Homo sapiens: one gene and its partners. The protein of the gene in region 1 interacts with the protein of each later gene in a pairwise test. Each region holds a gene or a part of one and is shown in the gene's direction. Other genes may lie near its edges.

Region 1 (3,500 bases):
AGGAGAGAGCAGAGTATAGGTCAAAGGCCAGTTTAAAGGTCCAGATCAGGCAGGGTGCGGTGGCTCATGCCTGTAATCCAAGCACTTTGGGTGACCAGGGCAGGCGGATCACGAGGTCAGGAGATCAAGACCATCCTAGCCAACATGGTGAAACCTCATCTCTACTAAAAATATAAAAATTATCTAGGTGTGGTGGTGCGCGCCTGTAATCCCAGCTACTTGGGAGGCTGAGGCAGGAGAATGGCTTGAACTTGGGAGGCAGAGATTGCAGCGAGCTGAGATCATGCCACTGCACTCCAGCCTGGCAACAGAGCGAGACTCCATCTCACACACACACACACACACACACACAAAAAGTTCAGATCAGTATTTGCCGAACTCTTTGTCATTTATCTACTCTAGTTAAAATTTTTTGCTTTATTCACATAGTGCTTTTTTCTTTAATAAATTAGTAACATTATTGTGTATAATAAAATTAAAACATATTATACATTTTAAACAAATAAGATCCACTAAAATATAAAGTATGAAATGTAAATAGTAATCTAATAAATTTGCTAAGTCCCCTAGTGATAAGAATGGAATAATTTTCCTCATTAAAAATCAGATATTCTGCTTGATAATTGCTTAAAGATACTGATGAGGCTATTGTACTAATTAGATGATTGCTTTTTTCCACTTTTGATGCTAACTAGCATAAAAAATGTCAAATCTAGTTTATTTAGTTGGAAAATAGAAAAGATATTAACTGTCTTCTCTGACGTAGCATATATATTGTGTATACTTCATATTCTAAAAGTCTGTCAGCTCCTGGAAGCAAAGTTATGTCACTGTTGAGAATGGGATGATGAATTGGAAATCTGTCTAAACTTCTGATTAGTTAAAAAGAAAGTTGGATATCCAAGGATTTGAGGCATACACTGGCATGCAAGGTGCTGATGCCTGTAATGTATATTAATTACTATAGCACTGTCTGCTTTATTCTCATTTGTAGTGATGCTATTCGACAAATCACAGGTTTGATACATTAGACACTTTTCTTTTAATTTCTGTGTAACTATTAAAAAATAAGTTATCACAAAAATCATCTTGCATTCCCCAGGTTAGGAAATATTGGGTTGCATATCTGGGAAAGTGCATAAGACTTGTTTTACTCCACTCCTATGAAATTTATGTATTTAAGGATGTGTTAGAAAAAATTATACACTCAGCCACTAAAGGTTAGAAATGTGGAACTTCATGTGGGAACATTGCTCCAGCCACACTTGGTACGTCAATGCTACTTCATTAATATTATACCTATTTAACATCAGATTGTATGTTGAGTATAGTATCTTCTGTAACAATTTAAAAAGAGCTCTAAACTAATGTTCCTGCTTATGACAAAGTCAGTGGAAGAAGAGAATTGGGGTTAAATGTTTGTCTCTCAGTGGATAAGGGCTATTTGAGTAGAATATAAGAAACCAAGTAGTAGTTCCTTAGACAGAGGGAAAGAGTCACTATCTTTGTTGGAATAATTATTTCCTTTTCTTTTCTACTATCTTTTGCTAAACTTTCTACTCTTCCACCATGTTAATTTATCTTTAGTATGAATATCAGAGAGTATTACTGTGTTATATTCCAATAATAGTTAAAATAAACATCATCTATGCATACGTTATCTTCTTATGATATAATTGCCCTGTTATATTAGTTATCTGTTGATGCCTAATAAATTATCTCAAAACTTAATGGTTTAAAACAGCAGTTAACATTTATTATCTTACATACTTTCTTTGGATCAGAAATTTAGGGGTGGCTTAACAGGGTGGTTGTGTCTGGTAAGGCTGGGTCGGCTGTCCTCTGAAGGCTTGGCTGGTGATAAAGGATGTAATTTACAAGATAGTTCACTCACATGGCTTTGGGCAGGAGGCTTCAGTCCCCTGCCACATGGATTTCTTCAAAAGACTGCTTGAGTTTTCTCTTTGCCAAGGCAAAAATTATTTTGAACAAGGAATTATTGATTCTGGTTTCTCCCTCAATAAGTGATCCAAGAGACAGAGCAAGGAGGAATCTGAAATGTCTTTTTAGACCTAGTCTCAGCAGTCATGGGCTGCTGCTTGTGCCATATTTCATTTGTTAGAATTGAGTCACTAGATCTAGCTCATGTTCAAGGGCAGTGAAATTCGGTTTCACCCTTCGAAGGGAGGAATGTCAGATAACTTGTAGACATTTTTTAATACCTGTTTAAACTAGGTTAAGGTGATAACCCTATTGAGTTACAGTCTGCCAATAGGAATCCATAAATTTATTTTGGGAATAGGAAGAGGGTGATTCATATAGGGAATCCGAAAGTTCTAAAAGGAATGATTGACAGACAGGAGGGGGGATGCCCATCTCTCTTTGAGTTTTACCCACTGTGATCTGTTTTTTTTTTTCCTTCAATTTTCTGGGTAAAAACATCTGATCTGTGTTTTAAGGAGAGATGGGACTCTGTCACACAGAGGCAGGCTCAGACTGGCAGTTAATGCATCCAGAATGGACTTTAAACTGAATTGTTTTTTAAATTAAGATACCTAAGTTCTATTTACTAAGCAAGTCTATTTACTTGTAGGTAACTTACTATTTATTTTCCTCTGTTATATGCTAGCCTTCAGTAAGTATTTAAGTATCCTATTCTTGGCTCAGATATGCTGAAGGGGCTTGGACTAAGGGATTAAATAGACGACTTTTGCCTTTCTTTTCTCTTCTAAGACCTGTTTGGTGGCAATGGCAATGAGCTCTCAACGGTTAGGTAAATTTAGGGGATCAGTTAAGACTTGTGAAATTGAGATACTACTTTGAACATTAGGATTCTCCCTTCATTACTACTGTTAAGAGGATTTGCATATGAATTATGAAAGGAACTTAATAGCTTTCTTACATTGTCTCGTTCTTATGCTATACAGTCATGCATTGCATAACAATGGGGACATGTTCTAAGAAATTGCATCATTAGGCAATTTTATTGTTGTATGAACATCATAGAGTGCATTTACACAAACTTAGATGGTATAGCCTACTACACATCTAGGCTTTATTATATAGCTTATTGCTCTTACGCTACAAACCTGTATAGCATGTTACTATATTTAGTACTATAGACAATTGTAACAGAATGGTAAGTATTTTTGTATCTAAACATAGAAAAGGTAAAATAAAAATATTGTATAAAGGATTAAAAATGGTACATCTGTATAGGGCACTTACCATGAATGGAGCTTAGAGGACTGGAAGTTTTTCTGGGTGGGTCAATGAGTGAGTCGTGAGTGAACGTGAAGGCCTAGGACATTACTGTACACTATTATAGACTTGACTTTATAAACACTGCATTCTTAGAACACACTAAATTTATATAAAATTTTTTTCTTCTTCAATAATAAATTAACCTTAGTTTACTGTGACTTTTTTACTTTATAAACTTTGAAAATTTAAAAACATTTTGACTCTTTGGTTATAACACAAAACACAAACATGTACAA
Region 2 (3,500 bases), on another chromosome or scaffold:
AATTTAGAGAAGACAATTAAATGTGCCAAGACCATTGTAAAAGGAAAAGAAGGGATGGGAGCATGGTAAGTCTTACATTTTTATGTAGCCTGTATTAACGACTTTCACTCATGATCTCTAATCTGAATCTTGGCTAAATCTTGGCTGTTGCGCACGTGCAGTGCCAAAACTAAAAGGCTCTGACTCACCAAGGTAAGTAGCAGAAAACCACAACCTCAAGGCCACAGAGGGAAGGAAATAATTATCAGAGAAATTGCCTTGAATTGTACTTTTTTTCCCCCAAATCTTGTTTAGGGTTATATAGAAAGCTAGGATGAACATCTTCAAACTAAATCTGTGTTTATTATGATAATCTCTGATTATTTCTATCCTTTAAGTTCCTACAAGGTTTTTGAATACGTTTAAGGTTCTTGATGCATGTTGTGAAATCCAGCAGGCCCATATTTGTTTATATTTCTACAAAAGGTTTAGTAAAATGTAGATTTACTGCACCTTCACCAATCACAACATTTTTGCGATTTAAAGGTGAATAACTGGCTGGGCATGGTGGCTCACACCTGTAATCCTAGCACTTTGGGAGGCTGAGGTAGTTGGATCACCTGAGGTCAGGAGTTCGAAACCAGTCTGACCAACATGGCAAAACCTCGTCTCTACTAAAAAAATAAATAAATAAATAAAATAAAATAAGTCGGGTGTGGTGGTGTGTGCCTGTAGTCCCAGCAACTCGGGAGGCTGAGACAGGAGAATCGCTTGAACACACAAGGCAGAGGTTGTAGTGAGCTAAGATCACACCATTGCATTCCAGCCTGGGCAAAAGAGTGAGACTCCATCTCAAAAAAAAAAAAGGTGGATAATAATTTTGTCTTATCTTCTTTTGTCTTTTATCATATCCCATTCGGGTGTTTCCCCCCATGTTTGTTATATATTACTATTGTTTTGTAATTTTTTTCTTCTTTGCTCTTTGCCTATTTTAAAATTCAAGTTATATTATTTGAAAGAGCTCTTTGTGTATTTGGTACATTAACTGATTTTTGTATATTTATTGCCAAAATAAATGCAAATCTAGTTTCCTCTTTAGCCAGATATTTGCTTAGAAGAGTCTAAAATTTACAAGTGGTTGGCCTATGTCTGACTTCTTTCACTGAGTGTTGCATTTGCTTATGTTTTTGTGTGTGGTTGTGATTCATTCTCATTGCTATACAGTATTCCATTGTGTGGATTCACCGCAGGTTACTTATGCATTCCTCTATTTGTGGGCATTTGGTAGTTTCTTCATTTTTAGTGCTGCCATGGACAGTCTATACTTAACTTTTGGTGAATATGTAAAAGGATTTCTGTTGTTTTTACTGAGGAATAAAATTGCTAGTCATAGGATAAGCATATTTTCAGATTTGGCATATTGTGTCAAACAGTTTTCTAAAGAGATTTTTATCAATGTACACTGCCATCAGAAATTATGCATTTCAGTTGCTTCACATTCTCAACCACGCTTGGTAATTTCCAGTTTATTCTCATGACTGTGTTGTGGTATTGCATTATGGTTTTACTCTGCATTTCCCTGATGAGGTTTCAAATGTTTATTGGCCATTTATGTATCCCCTTTGGTGAAGTGCCTCTTCAAATCTTTTGTCAATTTTTCTATTGTGCTGTCTTTTTCTTATTAATTTGTAGGAGATATTTATATATTCTGGATAAAGTTTTTTTGTTGGATATATGTATTGCAACTATCTTTCATTCTGTGAGTTACCTTTCTATCTTTTTTTTATAAGAGACATCTCAAAAAAAAAAAAAGAAAGAAAAGAAAAGAAATGGGGCCTTGCTCTGTCACCCTGGCTAGAGTGCAGTGGCATTATCATAGCTCACTGTAGCCTGGAACTCCTGGGCTCAAGTGATCCTCCTGCCTCAGCCTCCCGAGTAGTGAGGACAACAGGCACATGTCACCATGCCTGGCTCTTTTTTTTTTTTTTTTTTTTTAACCTTCTCAAGAGTGTCTTGATAAACAGAAGTTCTTAGTCACAATGTAGTCTAATTTATTATTGCTTTCCCTTTATGGTTATTTTAACAAATATCTGCCTATTCCTTGGTCTTGAGGATATTCTCCTTTTTTTCCTAAAAGCTTTATTGTTTTATCTTTCACATTTGGCTCTGCAATATCCTTTCTTTCTTTTTCTTTCCCTGTTGCATTGGCTAGGATCTCCAGTGAAGGTTGAATAGAAGTGACAATAGTGGCAGCCTTGTCTCATTTCTAGTCTCATAGGTAAAGAAGTTTAATATTGTGTCATTACATCTGATGTTTTAAATTTCTGGAGATACTCTTAATCAGATTGTGTTCCTTTCCATCTCTAGTTTGTTAAAGTTTTTTTTTAAATCATGAATGGGTGTTGAATTTTGGTTACCTTTATTTTTTTGCAATTCTGTGTTAGCTTATCCACCTGACTTAAAAATTCAAACTATTGTCTTTTTTTAATCTCTCTTAACTCCCATGACTTTTCCAAAGGTCATATCTGGTGACATCTTATTGAGGATGTCAGTTTTATAAAATTTACTTCTGGATCCTGCAGTATGTTATTTTCATAATAAATTTTATTATGATGTGCTGGGAGCGGTGGCTCATGCCTATAATCCCCAGCACTTTGGGAGGCTGAGGTGGGTGCATCACCTGAGGTCAGGAGTTCAAGACCAGCCTAGCCAACATGGCGAAACCCCATCTCTACTAAAAAAAAAATGCAAAAATTAGCCGGGCGTGGTGGCATGTGTCTGTAATCCCAGCCACTCGGGAGGCTGATGTAGGAGAATCGCTTGAACCTGGGAGGTGGAGGTTCCAGTGAGCTAAGATTGTGTGACTGTACTCCAGCCTGGGCAACAGAGCGAGACTCTGTCTCAAAAAAAAATATTAATAAAGAAATTTTATTATGATGCCCCCTTTTCTTTTTGTGATATTTCCGCATAGGTCCCGTGTTAGCTTTATCCTCTTTACCCTTCCTTGAATAAGGACAGAGTTACCCATATTCAGTATTTGCTAAATGGACAGGTTGTGTGGCTTTTTCTTGTCTCTGTTCACTGTTACTTGGATTATGGCCAGACCCTTTTCTCTGACGTCTACTTGGGGGTAGATTGGTGTGCACATCTCTTGGCCTAGTTTCCAGTTTGTAGATTTTGCTGGTGTGAGTGTCTTTCTGATATGCTGAACCAATGGAGTGCATGAAAATCCTCCATTTCCAGCTTACACTGCTACCATCTCCATCCACGCTGTTTATGATGGCAGGCCTACACTACCCAGTGAACTCTGCACCACCACAAACTTCCTTCTTCCCCTACCTTTTCTCCCCCCGTCCCACATTTTATAATTACCTGCCTGGTTGATTCTGGACATTGTAATCTCCAGATAGATCTAGAAAGAGTGTCATATTTCCTAAGTCCCAGATGGCACAATTTTTCAGATCTTAGTATTTCTGAAACTAGGCTTTATTTTGTAACCAATGTATTATGCCCCCAAAGCT
Region 3 (3,301 bases), on another chromosome or scaffold:
AAGACCAAAATACGCCACCCCAAAACCTAACCCTAACCCTAACCCCTAACCCCTAACCCTAACCCTAACCCTAACCCTAACCCCTAACCCCTAACCCTAACCCTAACCCTAACCCCTACCCCTAACCCCTAACCCTTACCGGTGACCCTACTGTATCCCTGACTCCTAACCAACGTTGATCCCTAACCCTAAACCCCTTACTGTAACTATAATCTTCATCCCACCCTATCCCTAGCCTTAGTGCCATCCCCCAGGCTTTTTCCAGGATGGGATTTTATGTGATTGTTTCGAATAGGTGGAAATCTCTGCTCATTTAGGAGTCGTTCAATGTAACAAGGATCTTGGTCTTCACAGAGACCCTAAACGCGTGTGGCCCAGGGCCATGTGGATGCCATCAGCCACTAGGTGGCAGCAGGGGCCCTTTGGATTTGAACAATGCAGCTCAGTCAGAGGGCTGGACTGGGACACCCCTACTCATGGTCTCTCTTGGCATGGTTTTGTTTGGTGACTCCAGGTGTCCCAACCTCCTGTGTCCATTGTAATATGTCCTGGGACCATCTCCCCCAGGGCCTTCAACCTGGGGGGTTGAACCCCAGGATAGCAACCCCAAGCCCTCCTTGCTATCCTGGCTACTGATGGAAGATGTACCTCAAGCCTGTCCCATTCCTCACTTCCTGCTGAGACCTGGCCCCAACATGGCCAGCTCTATGTTCCTCAGACCCTCTCAGGCCACCTTCTCTCTTCTAGGCACTGTCACTGGGCTTCTCCCCACCCCATAGATCCACAGCCCCCAGGTAGTCCTACAGCTGTGTCCACTCGTGCAGCCTGCACCCCCTTCCCCTACTCGGCCACCCCATCTGAGTAGTAAGGGGCCCCTGCCTGATTGGAGACCCCCAGATGCAGACCCAGATCACACAGCACACTGATAAGAGGAGGGATTCGCACCTTAAAAGAAAGGCGTGGGACCAACCCCAGATCCCACCACTCTCGGCCTCAAGGGCAGGCATGACTAGAGGCCCTTGGTGGCCAGGACCCACTGCCTTCTTCACCGATCAGTTGGCATGGCCTCTCACCAGTGTTCCCTCCTAACACACCTGTTCTCTCTCTCACACACCCTAAAGCCGCTTGCCAACCACCTGTCACACAGCCACTCCATGCCTGTTGCTGCTTGGCACCCACTGGGGGCCAGGGATGTGAACAAACCTCATCTAAGCTGGCTGCCGGGTCCTAATGGGCAGGTCCGGTCCGCCCTCTAGGAGAGGTGCTGTCCGGTGAGGCATAAAATCCCGGGATTCTGGCTGGAGGCAGCTCCTGAGACTGCTGGCATGAAGGGGAGCCGTGCCCTCCTGCTGGTGGCCCTCACCCTGTTCTGCATCTGCCGTGAGTCTGTGCCACTGGGGTTTCCAGAACATTCAGGGGTGGGGGGGAGTGGGGGGTACCTGAGAAGGTAAAATCCTGGCATCGGGCCTCTGCAGTGAACACTCCACCTGCTTCTGTCACAGAAGTGGGCAAGGACCCTGCAGAACCCGCGCCCACCCTACTCCACCCCAACCAAGGACAAAGCCCAGCTGACCCAACACCAGCCCAGTGTCTCCTACCCCAGCCCAGTCCAGCCTGACCTGACCCTTCAAGCCTCTGGTCATAATAGCCTCTCATCAGGGGAAATTTCCCCCACACCAGGAGCTTAACTTTCCTTCCCTGGTGATCCCAGGGAATGCTGAGTGGAAATTGGAGCAGCTAAGATTAAGGGGGATGTGGAGGGGTCTTCGGGCAAGGTGGAGTTGGAGGTGTTGTGGAGGAAGCCCTGGGGAGGAGAGGTGGGCATTGAAGGGGAAGGTCTGGAGACCATGGAGGTTGGAGCCCTGGGGCAGGTCCAGGGCTGTGGTTGCACCAGAGTCACCCTGTCCTGTCCTGGCATCATCTCGCTCGTGATGCAGGGATGGCCACAGGGGAGGACAACGATGAGTTTTTCATGGACTTCCTGCAAACACTACTGGTGGGGACCCCAGAGGAGCTCTATGAGGGGACCTTGGGCAAGTACAATGTCAACGAAGATGCCAAGGCAGCAATGACTGAACTCAAGTCCTGTATAGATGGCCTGCAGCCAATGCACAAGGCGGAGCTGGTCAAGCTGCTGGTATGAGGGCGGCGGGCACCCCATTTTCTAAAGATCTGCAGCCTTACCAAGACCACCCAACACAGCACCCACACAGCCTACCCCACCCACAGACATCCACCACCCACAGACATTGCACCCGCATCAGCCAGCTCAGGTGGACACCCCAGACCTCCTGTCCACCGAGCAGCCCCCAGACTCCATAGACCTCCTCCCCAGTCTGTGGGATACTCCTCCATGCACACATGTGAACATACACAGAGATCCAAACACAGGTGCAGACATGAAATGTACACTGCGTGCACACATGTATAAACACGTTCACACCCACATGCTCACACTGGGATATGCACACACATACATGTGTGCACACCATCACATGTGCACACACACCTCCCAGCTGCTGGGAGGAGATAGGCAGCAATATGCCAGACCCCCCCCCACTGAGGGCCTTGCTTGCCTGATGGAGCTGTGGCTCTCCACTTATTGAGCACAGCCCTCTTAGTCCACATGTGTCTGCCTTCCAGGTGCAAGTGCTGGGCAGTCAGGACGGTGCCTAAGTGGACCTCAGACATGGCTCAGCCATAGGACCTGCCACACAAGCAGCCGTGGACACAACGCCCACTACCACCTCCCACATGGAAATGTATCCTCAAACCGTTTAATCAATAAAGCCTCTTCCGCAGCTCAGGCTCCTGTCTCTGCCCCCACAGAGGGGCACACAAATGGGGACATCAGGAACACACTCGGGGCCACAGCCACACACACAGACCCACATACAGAGGATCCCACTCAAGGAGCACACGTGCGAAAGTCCCCACAGAGGGACACACAAATGGGGACATCAGGAACACAGGGCCACAGCCACACACACAGACCCACATACAGAGGATCCTACTCAAGGAGCACACGTGCGAAAGTCCCCCACAGAGGGACACACAAATGGGGACATCAGGAACACAGGGCCACAGCCACACACACAGACCCACATACAGAGGATCCCACTCAAGGAACACACGTGTGAAAGTCCCCACAGAGGTACACACAAATGGGGACATCAGGAACACAGGGCCACAGCCACACACACAGACCCACATACAGAGGATCCCACTCAAGGAACACACGTGTGAAAGTCCCCACAGAGGTACACACAGGGTCCACACAGGAGCAGGCACACCACAGGCA
Region 4 (4,221 bases), on another chromosome or scaffold:
TCCTATTTTTCACATTATAAAATAACATGAGGCCGGGCGCGGTGACTCAAGCCTGTAATCCCAGCACTTTGGGAGGCCGAGGCAGGTGGATCACCTGAGGTCAGGATTTCGAGACCAGCCTGACCAACATGGAGAGATCCTGTCTCTATTAAAAATACAAAATTAGCTGGGCATGGTGGCACATGCCTGTAATCCCAGCTATTCAGGAGGCTGAGGCAGGAGAATCGCTTGAACCCGGGAGGAGGAGGTTGCGGTGAGCTGAGATCACACCACTGCACTCCAGCCTGGGCAACAAGAGCAAAACTCTGTCTCAATAAATAAATAAATAAATAAATAATAAAATAACATGTTAGGCCGGGTGTGGTAGCTCACGCCTGTAATCCCGGCACTTTGGGAGGCTGAGATAGGCGGATTGTTTGAGGTCAAGAGTTCGAGATCAGCCTGGTCAACATGGCGAAACCCCACCTCTACTAAAAATACAAAAATTAGCCGGGCGTGGTGGCGCACACCTGTAATCCCAGCTACTGGGGAGGCTGAGGCAGGAGAATCGCTTGAACCCGGGAGGCGGAGGTTGCATTCAGCCAAGATCATGCCACTGCACTCCAGCCTGGGCGACAGAGCTAGACTCCATCTCAAAACAAACAAATTAAAAATAAATAAATAAATAACATGTTCATTATAGTAAAGCTGGAAATAACAGAAAAGTGGGAAGGAAACCAAAGATTTTATTTAACTATCAAAGCCAGGCACTTGGGATATTTTAATGGTTTTCCATATGGGATTTTTTTTTTTTTTTTTTTTTTTGCAGGCACAAGGGTTTTTTTGGTTCTCTGTAATATGGTTGGGAATTCAATATTAAGAAGTAGAGAATCCCAGCTACTCAGGAGGCTAAGGTGTGAGGATCACTTGAAGCCAGGAGTTCAAGATCGACCTGGGCTATGTAGAGAGACCCCGTTCCAAAAAAGATGTAAAGCTGGAAGGAAACTTGGGGGTCAGCTGGACTGGCCGCCTTTGTTGACAAGGCAGGAAAGCCTGGCTCAGTACCGCCGAATGATTTGTCCAAGGTGAGCGGTGGCAGAGCTGGAACCAGAAGCTGTTAGATGTTTGCTGCCCCTTAAACTCCAGCACCAAACCTCCCTCTGTCCCCGAAGACCATCTTCACAGGGCATGGTTAGTGCGTAGTGGATCTAGGCTCCAGACTGAGGGTCTGTCTGGGAAGGGCTTCTAGGAATCCCCCAGCTTCCTCGATAAAGGATGTGGCTCTGGTTACCCCCCTCCCCCATTTCCAGATGGAAATTTAGCTAAAGAGTGAGGGCCACAGAGCCCAGCAAGGGGCGTGGTCCGTGCCTGTTCCCAAGGGCGGAGCCAGCCAGCAGGGTCACCCTGTTCCTTTAAGAGAAGGGGGAGCGCTAGCCCCTCTCAGCCATCCTGTCCTGTCCTCCATCCTGGCCAAATCCGAAAGGGAAAATGAAAGAGGGAGCAGGAGGCGCCGGTCCCAGCCACCTCCCAAGGTCCCTGGCTCAGCTCTGACACCCCAGTCCCGGCCCCAGGGTGAGTGGGGTTGGGTGGCGGTTTAGGGGCACCAGGGGCGTGTGGGGACCTGTGTAAGTGTGGGGTGGGGAGGATCTCAGGAGATGTGGAGGCTGGAGGCACAGGAGGCCAGGGAGGAGGGAGAAGCCTGGCGTCGCACTCCCACCACGCTGGGGTAGGAGGGCAGGGACACCTCCGACAAAGGACCCTGTGAGAGTTATGAAAGCGGAGTTGCCTCTGTACCAGCCCCCCACCCTGAGAGGAGTTCACTGCAGTAAAAATGGTGAGAGAAATGGTGGGCCAAGAAAGGAGTGGTCTCGCTGCCTCTGCCACTCCCACTCCTCCCATGGGCACCAAATTGGGTCTAGCGTCTCGGGTTCGAGGCTCCACTCTTCCCACAGCATCCTTGACAGCTAAGGGCACCGCTGGGTTTCCGCTTCCGAAACCAGGCAAGTCAGGGGCTGGTCCAGCTGATCTCCAAGGTCCTTCCTAAGAATCTGGGATCTGGAGGATCCCAGGGTCGAACGGAGACGGCTCAGGGGGTGCGGCTAAAATGCAAATGGGGGATCCTCCCCAGCACCCATCGGTCCCAAAGAGAAGGTAACCCATAGCTGAGCGTCGCCTGCTCCCCTCGGGCCCTCCCGTGGCCCTCCGTTTCATACTGGTCTCATCGCTAAACCCGGGCCTCTCCTACCTCACGACTCACCCTGAAGTCAGAGAAGGTCCAACGGACCCCACCCCGATAGGCTTGGAAGGGGCAGGGGTCCCTGACTTGCCCCATCCCCTGACTCCCCGCCCCGCGTCCCCAGCGCCATGGGGGAGTGGGCGTTCCTGGGCTCGCTGCTGGACGCCGTGCAGCTGCAGTCGCCGCTCGTGGGCCGCCTCTGGCTGGTGGTCATGCTGATCTTCCGCATCCTGGTGCTGGCCACGGTGGGCGGCGCCGTGTTCGAGGACGAGCAAGAGGAGTTCGTGTGCAACACGCTGCAGCCGGGCTGTCGCCAGACCTGCTACGACCGCGCCTTCCCGGTCTCCCACTACCGCTTCTGGCTCTTCCACATCCTGCTGCTCTCGGCGCCCCCGGTGCTGTTCGTCGTCTACTCCATGCACCGGGCAGGCAAGGAGGCGGGCGGCGCTGAGGCGGCGGCGCAGTGCGCCCCCGGACTGCCCGAGGCCCAGTGCGCGCCGTGCGCCCTGCGCGCCCGCCGCGCGCGCCGCTGCTACCTGCTGAGCGTGGCGCTGCGCCTGCTGGCCGAGCTGACCTTCCTGGGCGGCCAGGCGCTGCTCTACGGCTTCCGCGTGGCCCCGCACTTCGCGTGCGCCGGTCCGCCCTGCCCGCACACGGTCGACTGCTTCGTGAGCCGGCCCACCGAGAAGACCGTCTTCGTGCTCTTCTATTTCGCGGTGGGGCTGCTGTCGGCGCTGCTCAGCGTAGCCGAGCTGGGCCACCTGCTCTGGAAGGGCCGCCCGCGCGCCGGGGAGCGTGACAACCGCTGCAACCGTGCACACGAAGAGGCGCAGAAGCTGCTCCCGCCGCCGCCGCCGCCACCTCCGCCACCGGCCCTGCCCTCCCGGCGCCCCGGCCCCGAGCCGTGCGCCCCGCCGGCCTATGCGCACCCGGCGCCGGCCAGCCTCCGCGAGTGCGGCAGCGGCCGCGGCAAGGCGTCACCGGCCACCGGCCGCCGAGATCTGGCCATCTAGGGGCGGGCACCGCCTCGCGCGGACTGGACGGCGAGGGCCGGACCCCGCCACCTCCGCCCGCACCGCAGAAGCCGGAAGCTGCTTCCACCAGAGCTGTCGCGGGACCTGCCCCGGCAGGAGACGCGTTGTGGGGACGGCCCGCGGGCGGCATCGCACTTGCCTCGTACTGCCTCCCAGTGGCTGCCGGCGGCACCTGGGGCAGGCCGGGCTGGGGGCGGAGAATGAACTCAGGCAGGTCCTGGATGCCACCACCCAGGTGGAAAGGAAGGAGACCAGGACCCTGAGAGAGAGTGGACCCGAGGGGGAGAACAGAGCGGAAGGTGGAGAGTGGTTGTTTTACTGGGGACAAAAACAACTGTGATGCCAGCATTCTCAGGCACTCTCTGTGTTCAGAGAGAGAGTGGTCCCCCTGTGGGCTCTCTGCGAGTGTGCATACACGGACACATAAGCACTGTGAGCTGTGTGCACGCGCACCTGTACACCCTGTGTGAGCGCTGTGCATGTGCGCGCATGTGTACACCCTGCGTGAGGCCCACTTGTGCACACAGACACACGTAACCCTCCCGGGTGAGCTGTGTGCACATGCACACAGAAACATATGCCCCTTGAGAGCTGTGTACTCACATCCCTGTGAGCTTTGTGTGAGTGCATTGTGCACACACGCACATGTCCATTCTGTGTGGGCTGCGTGTGCACACCTGTACACAGAAACATCCTTGTGCGCTATGTGTGCATGTGTACATCCGGCGTGACCTCTGTGTGTGCACGCGTGTGTGTGTGATCTCTGATATGCACTGCGGGGGTGGCCAGGATCCGATGCCAGCTGCAGCCACAATGGCTCCCTCCCTACCACCCTAACCCAGCCCACCTGCCAGGGCATCACAGGAGGTCTGTCCCCCCCTCCCAAGAGACCCCGCCCAGGGAGGGAAGAGGAGGAGAGGCTCCCTTTCCCCGGGCAGGCCTCAATCCTCGGGAGCCTATGAGCAACATCCT
Region 5 (3,500 bases), on another chromosome or scaffold:
CAGCTCGCGGGAGGGTTTGGAGGGTTCCCGTGTGAACTAACTATCCTTCCCTTCTTCAACAGCAGAAAGGACCCAGGAGCGATAACAGTAAATCAAATAAGATATTTGTCGGTGGAATTCCTCACAATTGTGGTGAGACAGAGCTCAGGGAATACTTCAAGAAGTTCGGAGTGGTGAGTTTCTCCCCACCCCGGCAGCACTGTGGGGACAGAGCCGCTTCTGCTCAGGCCTGGGCCTTCTTGGGGCTGGAGTGGCCGAGCCACAGGTGCACGGGCCTTTCAGGCTGGGAGCTCGCTGTCTCGTATTTCCCCAACGCCTGCGCCCTCCGGAAAGGTGGAAAGCCCGGCCTTTGCCTTCATGGCCATTTCGTGTCCCAGTAGGGTGGTTGGGCGGTGAACCAGCCTGACAGCCTTCAGGGCGGCCGCCCGATTCCATTGTGAACACCGTGGGGTCCAGTGTCAGAGAAGGGCAGTTACACAGAAACGGGGTTCAGTGTGGCCTGGGCGAGCCAGCCCCACAGAGCTGACTTTCCACTGGGCAGGTGGGAGAATGCCCGAGCTCCGTTGAGCCCAGTGCCAGAGGGAGCTGGGACAGCCGGAGGGGGCCGGCGGGGAGCCCTCCTAGTCACCCAAGGCAGGGGCGTGTGGTCACCCCAAGGTCCTGCTGGGACTCCTGCCGTGCCCCGCAGGTCACACTCCGAGCCCCGCCAGCAGGACAGCCCTGCGTGCCTGAGTACTGCGCACGTTCATCAGGTGGTACCTGAGGGTGCCACGGGCCTGGGCCAGGAATGAGAGGCCTGAGCGGGGCCTGGAAGAGCAGGGTCTGCAGAGGAGCTGTGTGTGGCTGCCCCGCCACTTCGAGTGAGGGCCGAGCGTGCCCTTTGCTTCCCGCGTTTGGGTGGGAAGGGCTTCTGTGGGGTCTCCTGGCTCCCACGTCCCCTGCTAGGATGCGTGGTCGGCGTTGTTGGCCCTTCATGTCCGTCAGCACACACGTGAGCGGGGCCACGGGCAGCCCGGAGGCGGGTATCCAGACGCCTGCCCTGGAGCTGCTTCTCCCTGCCTGCGTCTGGCCCTGGGAGTGTTGGGGCTCCAGCCTTTCTCAGACAGCAGCCCCACGGAGCAGCTGTTGCCCGTGCACCTCCCCCGCTCAGGGAGGGCGCACCCTGTGCGAGAGTTTGGGTTCGTGGGAACAGGCTGTGCCCTCGGAAGACCACCTGTGGTGCTGGCCCTGGTGTCCGTGCTGACGCCACCCTCTCCTTCCAGGTCACGGAGGTAGTCATGATCTATGACGCCGAGAAGCAGAGGCCCCGAGGTAAGGGCAGATCTAGTTTGACCTCGGCCTTCTCCCTGCTCCTCCCTCAGATGGCAAACTATCTCACCCGCCAGGCACACACAGGTGGCGGCTGTAGCAAACAGCCTCAGGAAGGGACGATTTGGAGACAAATGACTAAAACGTGGGCTCCTCATGTGCACCCCATTCAGCCTGTCTGTGCTTCCCGAGGTCAGACGTCACACATTGTTTTTTGGCTTGTTCTTTTGAAGTTTTTACGACTTGTCATGAGTCTCGGCCTGGCTTCTGTTTTTCACTGTCCGGAAGAGTGTGGTCCTTCTGCATTTGACCTTCCTTCACCCTCATCCAGTCCTCCCAGTGTGGCCGGTCTCATTTCGTGTCGTCAGCTGGGTCAGCTGGCTCGGTGTGGAGTTTGGATTTTCCGTGATCCATCCCATGCTTTTTTTTTCTTTCTTTCTTTTTTCCTTTTCTTTTCTTTTTCTTTTTTTTCAGTTTTCTCCCCTCTCTGAAGTCAGCAGGGCAGGTGGGAGGAGGGGTGAGGAGTCACCTCAGGGCCTCCCCTCATTTTCCCTCAGCTTCTTGCACACCCATCCATGCTGGTTTGTGGAGCTGGGACGATGGGCGCCCAGTTTCTGTGCCCCTTTTCCGTGGCTGCTGCTGTCTGTCCCGCCCGCCCGCATGGTTTTGGTTCATCAGCTGCTTTTGGCCGGCCACGTGAGCAGACCTGCAGCCTGGGTCTGCCCGCCACGTCCGTGCCGCCCCCGCACCACCGGCCCAGGTCAGTCGGGGCAGCCCCGAGCGCCAGGTGGCGCCGCAGCATGCCCACCATGCTGGAGCATAGTTTGCCATTTGAACCTCCCTCCCCACGGTTAGGAGTGCTCCTCCTCCATGTCGGTTACGCTGTTAAGTCTTAGTCGTAACTTAATTTAGACATACATGCTTAGTGACGTACTTAAGTGTTTCATAGTAAAGTACAGTGATGTTAAGTAAGCTGTTTTTCCTTTTCTCTCTGTGAATTGTGTGTGATTAACGATATCTCTTTAGATTTCTCTTCTCCAGGTGCTAAATTATATCACACAGGTACAGGCCAGTCCCGCAGTCAGAGGAGGGAGCGGCTTTGCTCCAGTGGGGTGTAAACGAAGTTTCAGGTGTTTCTGTCCCGCTTCCTCAGTGGTGATGTCGCCTCTTGACAGCCGCATTCCTAGACAGCGCTCAGGGCGCCTCCCCCAGGACCCAGCGCCTCTTGCACTGTGCCCGGACCAGGCGAGCCCTGTGGTTTCAGACACTCCTGCAGTTTGCGAAAATGTCTACTTCTAAATACGTTGTTTCATCACCGATGCTGTGTTCCAATACTGCCTCTGATCTTGGGAAACTTGAGCGCGCGGGAATCTGAGGGTTGCTTCTAGATCCTCCCGGTCCCCCTCCGGCTGCCCAGAGCTGGCGCCCCTTCTCCTCGCGTCCTGTCCTGTCCCGTGTGGACGGGACGTGGCGAGTGTCGCTGAGTCCACACTGGTGTACAGAGCACTTCGGGGCCAGCACGTGGCCACATGTCCTTAGCTGTTGGGCTTTGAAAGTGTCCCTTGGGTGTCAGGCGAGTGGAGGGCCGGAGAGACGCTGCGGCGCTGCTTAGCGGGTCCTCCCAGAGAGTGTGTCCCCTTCCCTTGGCCTTTCTGCATCTTCTGAGACGGGTCTGTGTCCCCCTCCCCGCCACCTCCTCCCTCTTCCTCTCCACTGACTGAAGGTCATGGCCATGTCCCTGTCAGGGACCCCGCCTGTGTCTCGGGCACACAGTGTCTGTGCGGGTCCCTGCTTGGCCCTCCCACGTCTACCCTCGGCCCGCCCGCTCCAGCCGCTGCCTCGTTCGCCTCTCAGTCCCCTCAGGTCTTCTCCATCCTGCGCTCCTCTCGCTGTGTGCCTTGCCTTCCTGGTCCCTCCTCCTCTTCCTCCTCCTCTTCCCCCTCCCCCTCCTCCTCCCCCTCCCCCTCCCCCCTCCCCCTCCGTCTGGTTGCAGACACTGCGTGCACAGTCACGCTCAGGTGCACACGTGTGCTCAGGACGGTGGGAGGCTCCTGAACCACAGTGACCTTTGTCCCCTCACAGTCTGAGCTGCCCTTTCTGCCCCGTTTCCATCTTTCCCCGCCCCCAGTTTTGCTTGTCCTGTTTCTGCCTGGTCCCAGCTACAGCAGCCCTGGCCCCTGTCTCTTCAGCTT
Region 6 (3,313 bases), on another chromosome or scaffold:
ACCCCTTTATTTGAAACTCTGCTCATTTTTCAGGCCCTGCTTCAATGCCACCACCTCCGTGCAGCCTCCTCTGATGTTTGTCATTAGCTTAGCTCTTCCGTGTGTGCTCCTGCACCACTGATCCCTTCCACAACATGGACTGTCTGTGATGCACGTGTGCAGGATGCTGGGAATGCCCAGGTGGAAAGACACACGTGCTGCCCCCAGGAACTGACTGACTGGTAGGCACAGTACAGATACCAGTGGTGAGGACAGTGAGGATTCTTCCCTTCTGACCCTTTGCAGATGGTAAAGGAAGGAACTCGTCACCTAATTCCCCCGACTGCCCGTTAAGAACAAAATCCCTTGAAAAATTCCAAAAGCTTTAACTCTGATAACTGTTAAGGTACTAAACAAGAGGATAATGGGGCAAGGAAAATGGGGGCAGTGTAGTGCAGAAGTCTGACCCTCAAGAGCAGAGGAGCTTGGTCCTAGCCAGTTTGGTTTCAGGCCTACAGTGGCATTTGGTATTTTGAGCTCACCTCTCTTTTTCTCTTGGAGTGACTGCTTCCTGCATCTGCTGCATCTCCGTGGGCTCCCCTCAGACCCTCTTCTGAAGGCCTGGGGTGTCTCTCCTGCCACCATGCCTGTGTCTGCAGGTGCCTGCCACCAGCCCCAGTCTGCTGCACGGGCCCTGGCAAGTAGAAAGCACTTGCCTTCTGACCACACGGGGAGCTGAGGGTCAGAGACGGAACCAGGGCTCGACCCTCCACCTTGAAACCTTGAGATGGGGATGCTCCTCATTCTAGCCAGTTCCTCCTCAGCTCTCAAAACAAGGAACAGATGCTCAGGAAACCAGATCTGGACAAAAGTCATCTGAGCCTGGTGTGAGGCAGATTCCAGAAGTTTAGTTACAGACATCCTTTATAAGGAGACTTCATCGGGAATTCAAGACAACCTGGTGATTCATTGAAATTTGCCTGTGAAAGAGAATCTACATAGACTTCCTGCCACCTCTTGAGATGTGACAGTTGCTGACCCTCCCGCCACCACACAGGGCGAGCCCCTAGCCCTGAGCTTGAACCATGTTGCTTGCACAAATAGCTGGGTGATTTAGAAGTGAGGTCAGCTGTGCCAGCAGTTACAGGGTGGTGGTTGTCTGTAACTTTAATCCACTGACTGTTGTACTAGGGCAGTTTGGGCTAGACACTTTGGAGGAGCTCCTGTGAAGGGCATGAAGGCTCACTGTAGCAGCAGCTCAGTTGTCTTTCAGAGTTCTGCCCTTAGAGCTGGTTTGCAGTGCTCATCCTTCTTGCTGATATTTTAAAATAGGTAGAAACAGGCTGGGCGCGGTGACTCATGCCTTTAATCCCAGTACTTTGGGAGGCCTAGGTGGGCAGATCACCTGAGGTCAGGAGTTCGAGACCAGCCTGACCAACATGTTGAAACCCCGTCTCTACTAGAAATACAAAAATTAGCCAGGCGTGGTGGCGCGCACCTGTAATCCAGCTACTCAGGAGGCTGAGACAGGAGAATCGTTTGAAGACAGGAGAATCGTTTGAACCCAGGAGGTGGAGGTTGCAGTGGCAGTGAGCCAAGATACCGCCACTGCACTCTAGCCTGGGCAACAGAGCAAGACTCCATCTCAAAATAAATAAATAAATAAAAATAAAATAGGTAAAAACAAATTATAAAGTAATACAATTATGAACTGCAAATAATAAAACATAAAAATTACTTTAAAAAAATTTAAAGAGGCCGGGCACAGTGGCTTATGCCTGTAATCCCAGAAATTTGGGAGGCCGAGGCAGGAGGATCACTTGAGCCCGGGAGTCCAAGACCAGCCTCGTTAATATAATGAGAGCTTATCATCTCTACAAAAAATAAACAAAATTAGCCAGGCATGGTGGCATGTGCCTGTAGTTCCAGCTACTCAGGAGGCTGAGGTAGGAGGATCACTGGAGCCCAGGGGGTGGAGGAGCAGTAAGCCAAGATTCTGCCACTGCACTCCAGCCTGGCTGACAGAGTAAGACCCTATCTCAAAAAACAAAAAGCAGAAAGAACAAAGAAGTAAACAAAAGCTTAAAAGTAAATCAGCCAGGTGCAGTAGCTCATGCCTGTAATCCCAGTACTTTGGGAGGCCTAGGCAGGCAGATTACTGCAGGTCAAGAGTTTGAGACCAGCCTGGCCAACATGATGAAACCCTGTCTCTACTAAAACTACAAAAATTAGCCAGGCATGGTGGTGCGCACCTGTAATCCCAGCTACTCCGGAGGCTGAGACAAGAGAATCGCTTGAACCTAGGAAGTGGAGGTTGCAGTGGCAGTGAGCCAAGATAGCGCCACTGCACTCCAGCCTGGGCAACAGAGCAAGACTCCATATATGGAGATCCCTTGAGATCAAGAGTTCGAGACCAGCCTGGCCAACACGGCAAAACCCTGTCTCTACTAAAAATAAAAAAATTAGCCAGGCATGGTGGCGCACACCTGTAGTCCCAGCTACTGAGGAGGCTGAGACAAGAGAATCACTTGAACACAGAAGGCAAAGGTTGCAGTGAGCTGAGATTATGCCACCACACTCCAGCCTGGGTAACAGAGTGAGACTCCGTCTAAAAAAAAAAAAAAATCGGGCAGTTGTGATGGCTAACACCTGTAACCCCAGCACCTTTAGAGGCCCAGGTGGGAGGATCCCTTCAGGCCAAGAGTTTGAGATGAGCCTGGGTAACATAGGGAGAGCCTGCCTCTACAAAAAAAAAAATAATAAAAAAATAAAAATTAATGCGTGCGTGCTACTTGGGAGGCTGAGGTAGGAGGATTCCTTGAGCCCAGGAGTTTTGAGGTTACAGTGAGCTGTGATTGAGCCACTGCATTCTAGCCTGGGTGACAGTGAAACCCTGTCTCTAAAAAGTAAATAAATAAAAGTAAATAGTAACTAAAGTAAAACTCTAGAAACATTTACAGTTACTACAGAGGAACTTTAAAACAGTTTAAGCAATAAATACAAGAGGACTAAAAAACACAAAAGTTTTTACAATTTCTAACAGACTGCATCAATTGGCAAATTGATTCCATTTATGATTGTTAAAATAGGTGAATAAGATTAGATGACAAGATAACAAAAAAGGAATACGTTATTTATTTGTTTATTTCAGACAGAGTTTTGCTCTTGTTGCCCAGGCTGGAGTGCAATGGCATGATCTGGGCTCACTGCAACCTCTGTCTCCCTAGTTCAAGCAATTCTCCTGCCTCAGCCTCCCAAGTAGCTGAGATTACCGGCATGCGCCACCACGCCCAGCTAATTTTTTGCATTTTTAGTAGAGACGGAATTTCACCAT
Region 7 (3,500 bases), on another chromosome or scaffold:
AGATGTAATTTTCAGGAGTTAACCACAGCAAGATGATTGTTGAAGCCTGGGATTGGTAAGAAAGTATGTAGGTAAGAACAAAATATCTAAGAGAAGCTTGGGGAGATGCCTTTCTTTAAGCAGTGGAGTATCAAGGAAACCAAAAGAGTAAAATGCAAAGATACAGTGCTCCTGGGGATGAGTGGGGGATGTATAGTGTTATGATGTTATAAATGGGAGGAAGGCTGGGCGCGGTGGCTCACGCCTGTAATCCCAGCACTTTGGGAGGCTGAGGTGGGCGGATCACAAGGCCAGGAGCTCGAAACCAGCCTGACCAACATGGTGAAACCCCACCTCTACTAAAAATACAAAAAGTAGCTGGGCATGGTGGGGCATGCCTGTAATCCTAGCTGCTCAGGAGGCTGAGGCAGGAGAATTGCTTGAACCCAGGAGGCGGAGGGTTGCAGTGAGCCAAGATCGCACCACTGCACTCCAGACTGGGCGACAGAGCGAGACTCCATGTCAAAAAACAATAATAATAAAATTAAAATAAAATAAAATAAAATAGGGAGAAAAATCTTAGAATACAACTTCTGTAAATATGACTGCTGCAAGCTTTGTACATAGAATGCAGGAAAGTGAGATCCACATTTTATTTATCTTCACATTCCCTACCCTATTACAGTATTACTATAGTACAGTATATGGCAAGAAGAAATTATTTCCTAAATGAAGGAATGAATAGGACTTTGGCATCATCATAAATATATTGGTCTTCGGTCAAAATTTCCACGAAGTCCTGACACTTGTAATTTTTGTGTCTGTCATCACACCCATTTCCATCTCTCCCAAACCAATGTGGAAAGAAAGGAACAAAGCTTGTTCTTATTAGTGTCTTGAGTCTTTCCAGGACAGAAACAACCTGATCAAAAATAGAGTAGGAAAAGAGGATAGAACAGGAGGCTACTGAATTATCAGTGAGGGGGAAAATGCTATAGCAAGAATTGAAAATGTGGACTAATCTGATAGTTTTCTGACCCAACTTTATCATTATCTGGAATTATTTTCTAGACACTACTAGTGTCATTGGCACATATATTACTCTTTCTCTCTCAGAGCATTTCCTAATTTAGAAAGAAAAACTGACTACAGATAAAACTGGATCAATTCTTGTTCTGTGAATCCAGGCTCAATACAATTTAATGTCTTTTAATTGCTGCCCTATTTTGTATTAATTTCATGTTACATTTAATTTCAACAATGATTACTGGAATTTCGTAGAACAAGAGGAAAAGTTAGGCTTGATTTTTGACACAATTTTAAAACCTACAACATTTTGACATTTATTGGGACATCCCACCTTATTTTAAAGTTTTATCACTGTGACAGCAGGCCTATTCCAGTAAGCAGAAGCTAGCATATAAATATTATTTATGGGTTTTAATGGCCATATAACTTCTAACACTATTTTTAAAAACCAGTTTTGTACATTTTGTGTTATAATGGTTATGAAGATTAAAAATAAAAATAATTAGCTGGGCGCTATGGCTCACGCCTGTAATCCCAGCACTTTGGGAGGCGAAGGTGGGCAGATGACCTGAGGACAGGAGATCGAGACCAGTGGCCAATATGGTGAAATCCTCTCTTTACTAAAAAATACAAAAAATTAGCCAGGCATGGTGGTGCATACCTGTAATCCCAGCTACTTGGTAGGCTGATGCAGGAGACTCACTTGAACCTGGGAGGCAGAGGTTGCAGTGAACTGAGTTCGTGCCAGTGCACTCCAGCCTGGGTGACAGAACGAGACTGTCTCAAAATAAATAAATAAATAAATAAATAAATAAATAAATAAATAAATAAATAGCTGCACATATTTATACCTAAAATTAAAATCTGAAAGAAAAAAAGCAGATATTACATTTAAAAATGCAGTATGAATAAGTTTGTATTTCTAATTTTACTCACAAATTATGATTTCTGGTAAGATTGCTTTTTATGGTTAAGACTACTAAGTGGTTTACCTAAGATACATCTAAAGTAATTAAGCAACTAAGCCAGATTGCATCCAGATATGAAAATATACACTATAATATATTCCAATGACCTCTCAAGTATAAAATCATTCAAATGAAGCATACTGGAATATGGCAGCCCAAACCACCCAGACAAAAGGAGTATATAAACTTGGTCTGTGGAGCAGAATGTCCATTGGTAATAACAGAAAAACCTACGGTTATGGGAAAACAGGATACAAAAAAAAAGATCCTATTGCCAGCAAATTACTTGAACAGTTTTGAAAGCAAATTTCAATCCTTTCCATTTATCTGTTTCTTACAGCATTCCACCAATCATACATCTTTGCCATTGGTTTGTTTTCAGGATATCTATATTCACTGGGATAAACATTTATAATTTTAACATACAGATATACTAAAATATTATTTATAACCTACTTGCTTATACCCAATATTTATGAGATCCTATGTGTATAAATATATGGTATTTATAAATATCATATAGGTATAAATATATGTATAATAAATCACACATGTATTTATATGTATATTATATATTATACATAAGCTGCATATATTTATAAATATATGTATACATATGCATATATGTATATTATGTGTATGCATATGCATATATGTATGTGTATACAAATGCATATGTATTATATGTATACATACATGTATACATATTATATGTATATATTATGTGTGTACATATATGTATGTATATGTACACATATGCATATATGTATATACATATATAAATGCAGGTGCATGTATGTACATATGTATAAATATATGGTATTTCTACATATAGGATTTCATAAATATTGGGTATATAAATTATATATATATATATATATATATATATATATATATATGGCCTAACTACTGCCAGTGTTGGGTAGATTCTAATAAGAACAATAGCATGATTCTGTCTTCAGTGCATTTATAAACTTGTTGCCAAAACAAGTTCTATTCACATAGAACAGAAAATTTTAGACTGCAACAAAGTGCCAAAAGGTATGGTACAAATAACAAGTGCATAGGAAGAGTTCAATCTTGCCTCAAATAGTCAGGAAATGGTGACTAGAAAGATAAGTTATTATGCAGACTAAAGGTAAGGGGAATGGTCTCTTTAGAAATAATTTGCACCTTGAATGTTCTTTGCCCTATAAGTTATTTTCATTATTTTAGAAAACATTTTTCTCTTTTCAGCTTCGTGGTGGATCCTGAACAACTAGATGTTCCTAGACATTTTCTTTATGGTTCCAAGTGCAAAACAGGTGTTCTTATCTAAAACGTCAATTAGAAAATTATCTGCGGTTGTTAATCTACTGTATATTTTTGTTTGGTATATTTACTAAGTGCACTCTTTCAAAACTTATTCTATAACTTTATCAATTCATGTGAATTTTAGCTCAATTTTCAAAGTTCACTAATATTCTCAATATTTAATGCTAAATGCTTTGCTACATTGTAACTCACCTAAAACCTTTTAGTGAC

What was found.
Region 2: the proteins of BMP2K (region 1) and LYZL4 interact in a two-hybrid assay, tested with the Homo sapiens proteins (one large-scale study listed by IntAct).
Region 3: the proteins of BMP2K (region 1) and SCGB1C1 interact in a two-hybrid assay, tested with the Homo sapiens proteins (one large-scale study listed by IntAct).
Region 4: the proteins of BMP2K (region 1) and GJD3 interact in a two-hybrid assay, tested with the Homo sapiens proteins (one large-scale study listed by IntAct).
Region 5: the proteins of BMP2K (region 1) and DAZAP1 interact in a two-hybrid assay, tested with the Homo sapiens proteins (one large-scale study listed by IntAct).
Region 6: the proteins of BMP2K (region 1) and RABL2A interact in a two-hybrid assay, tested with the Homo sapiens proteins (one large-scale study listed by IntAct).
Region 7: the proteins of BMP2K (region 1) and NECAB1 interact in a two-hybrid assay, tested with the Homo sapiens proteins (one large-scale study listed by IntAct).

Annotation. Positions count from the first base shown.
Region 1 is NC_000004.12:78,873,850-78,877,349, forward strand, and holds part of BMP2K (BMP-2-inducible protein kinase), read left to right. Parts: intron 1-3,500. UniProt on the Homo sapiens protein: May be involved in osteoblast differentiation.
Region 2 is NC_000003.12:42,400,611-42,404,110, reverse strand, and holds part of LYZL4 (lysozyme-like protein 4 precursor), read left to right. Parts: coding exon 1-65; intron 66-3,500. UniProt on the Homo sapiens protein: May be involved in fertilization. Has no detectable bacteriolytic and lysozyme activities in vitro.
Region 3 is NC_000011.10:191,775-195,075, forward strand, and holds SCGB1C1 (secretoglobin family 1C member 1 precursor), read left to right. Parts: upstream 1-1,325; coding exon 1,326-1,380; intron 1,381-1,937; coding exon 1,938-2,137; intron 2,138-2,643; coding exon 2,644-2,676; 3' UTR 2,677-2,801; downstream 2,802-3,301.
Region 4 is NC_000017.11:40,361,938-40,366,158, reverse strand, and holds the start of GJD3 (gap junction delta-3 protein), read left to right. Parts: upstream 1-1,421; 5' UTR 1,422-2,343; coding exon 2,344-3,228; 3' UTR 3,229-4,221. UniProt on the Homo sapiens protein: One gap junction consists of a cluster of closely packed pairs of transmembrane channels, the connexons, through which materials of low MW diffuse from one cell to a neighboring cell.
Region 5 is NC_000019.10:1,421,086-1,424,585, forward strand, and holds part of DAZAP1 (DAZ-associated protein 1), read left to right. Parts: intron 1-62; coding exon 63-173; intron 174-1,262; coding exon 1,263-1,311; intron 1,312-2,334; coding exon of another isoform or gene 2,335-2,426; exon of another isoform or gene 2,427-2,625; intron 2,626-3,500. UniProt on the Homo sapiens protein: RNA-binding protein, which may be required during spermatogenesis.
Region 6 is NC_000002.12:113,637,266-113,640,578, forward strand, and holds part of RABL2A (rab-like protein 2A), read left to right. Parts: intron 1-33; exon of another isoform or gene 34-3,313. UniProt on the Homo sapiens protein: Plays an essential role in male fertility, sperm intra-flagellar transport, and tail assembly.
Region 7 is NC_000008.11:90,952,275-90,955,774, forward strand, and holds part of NECAB1 (N-terminal EF-hand calcium-binding protein 1), read left to right. Parts: intron 1-1,669; exon of another isoform or gene 1,670-1,712; intron 1,713-3,212; coding exon 3,213-3,238; coding exon of another isoform or gene 3,239-3,294; 3' UTR 3,295-3,500.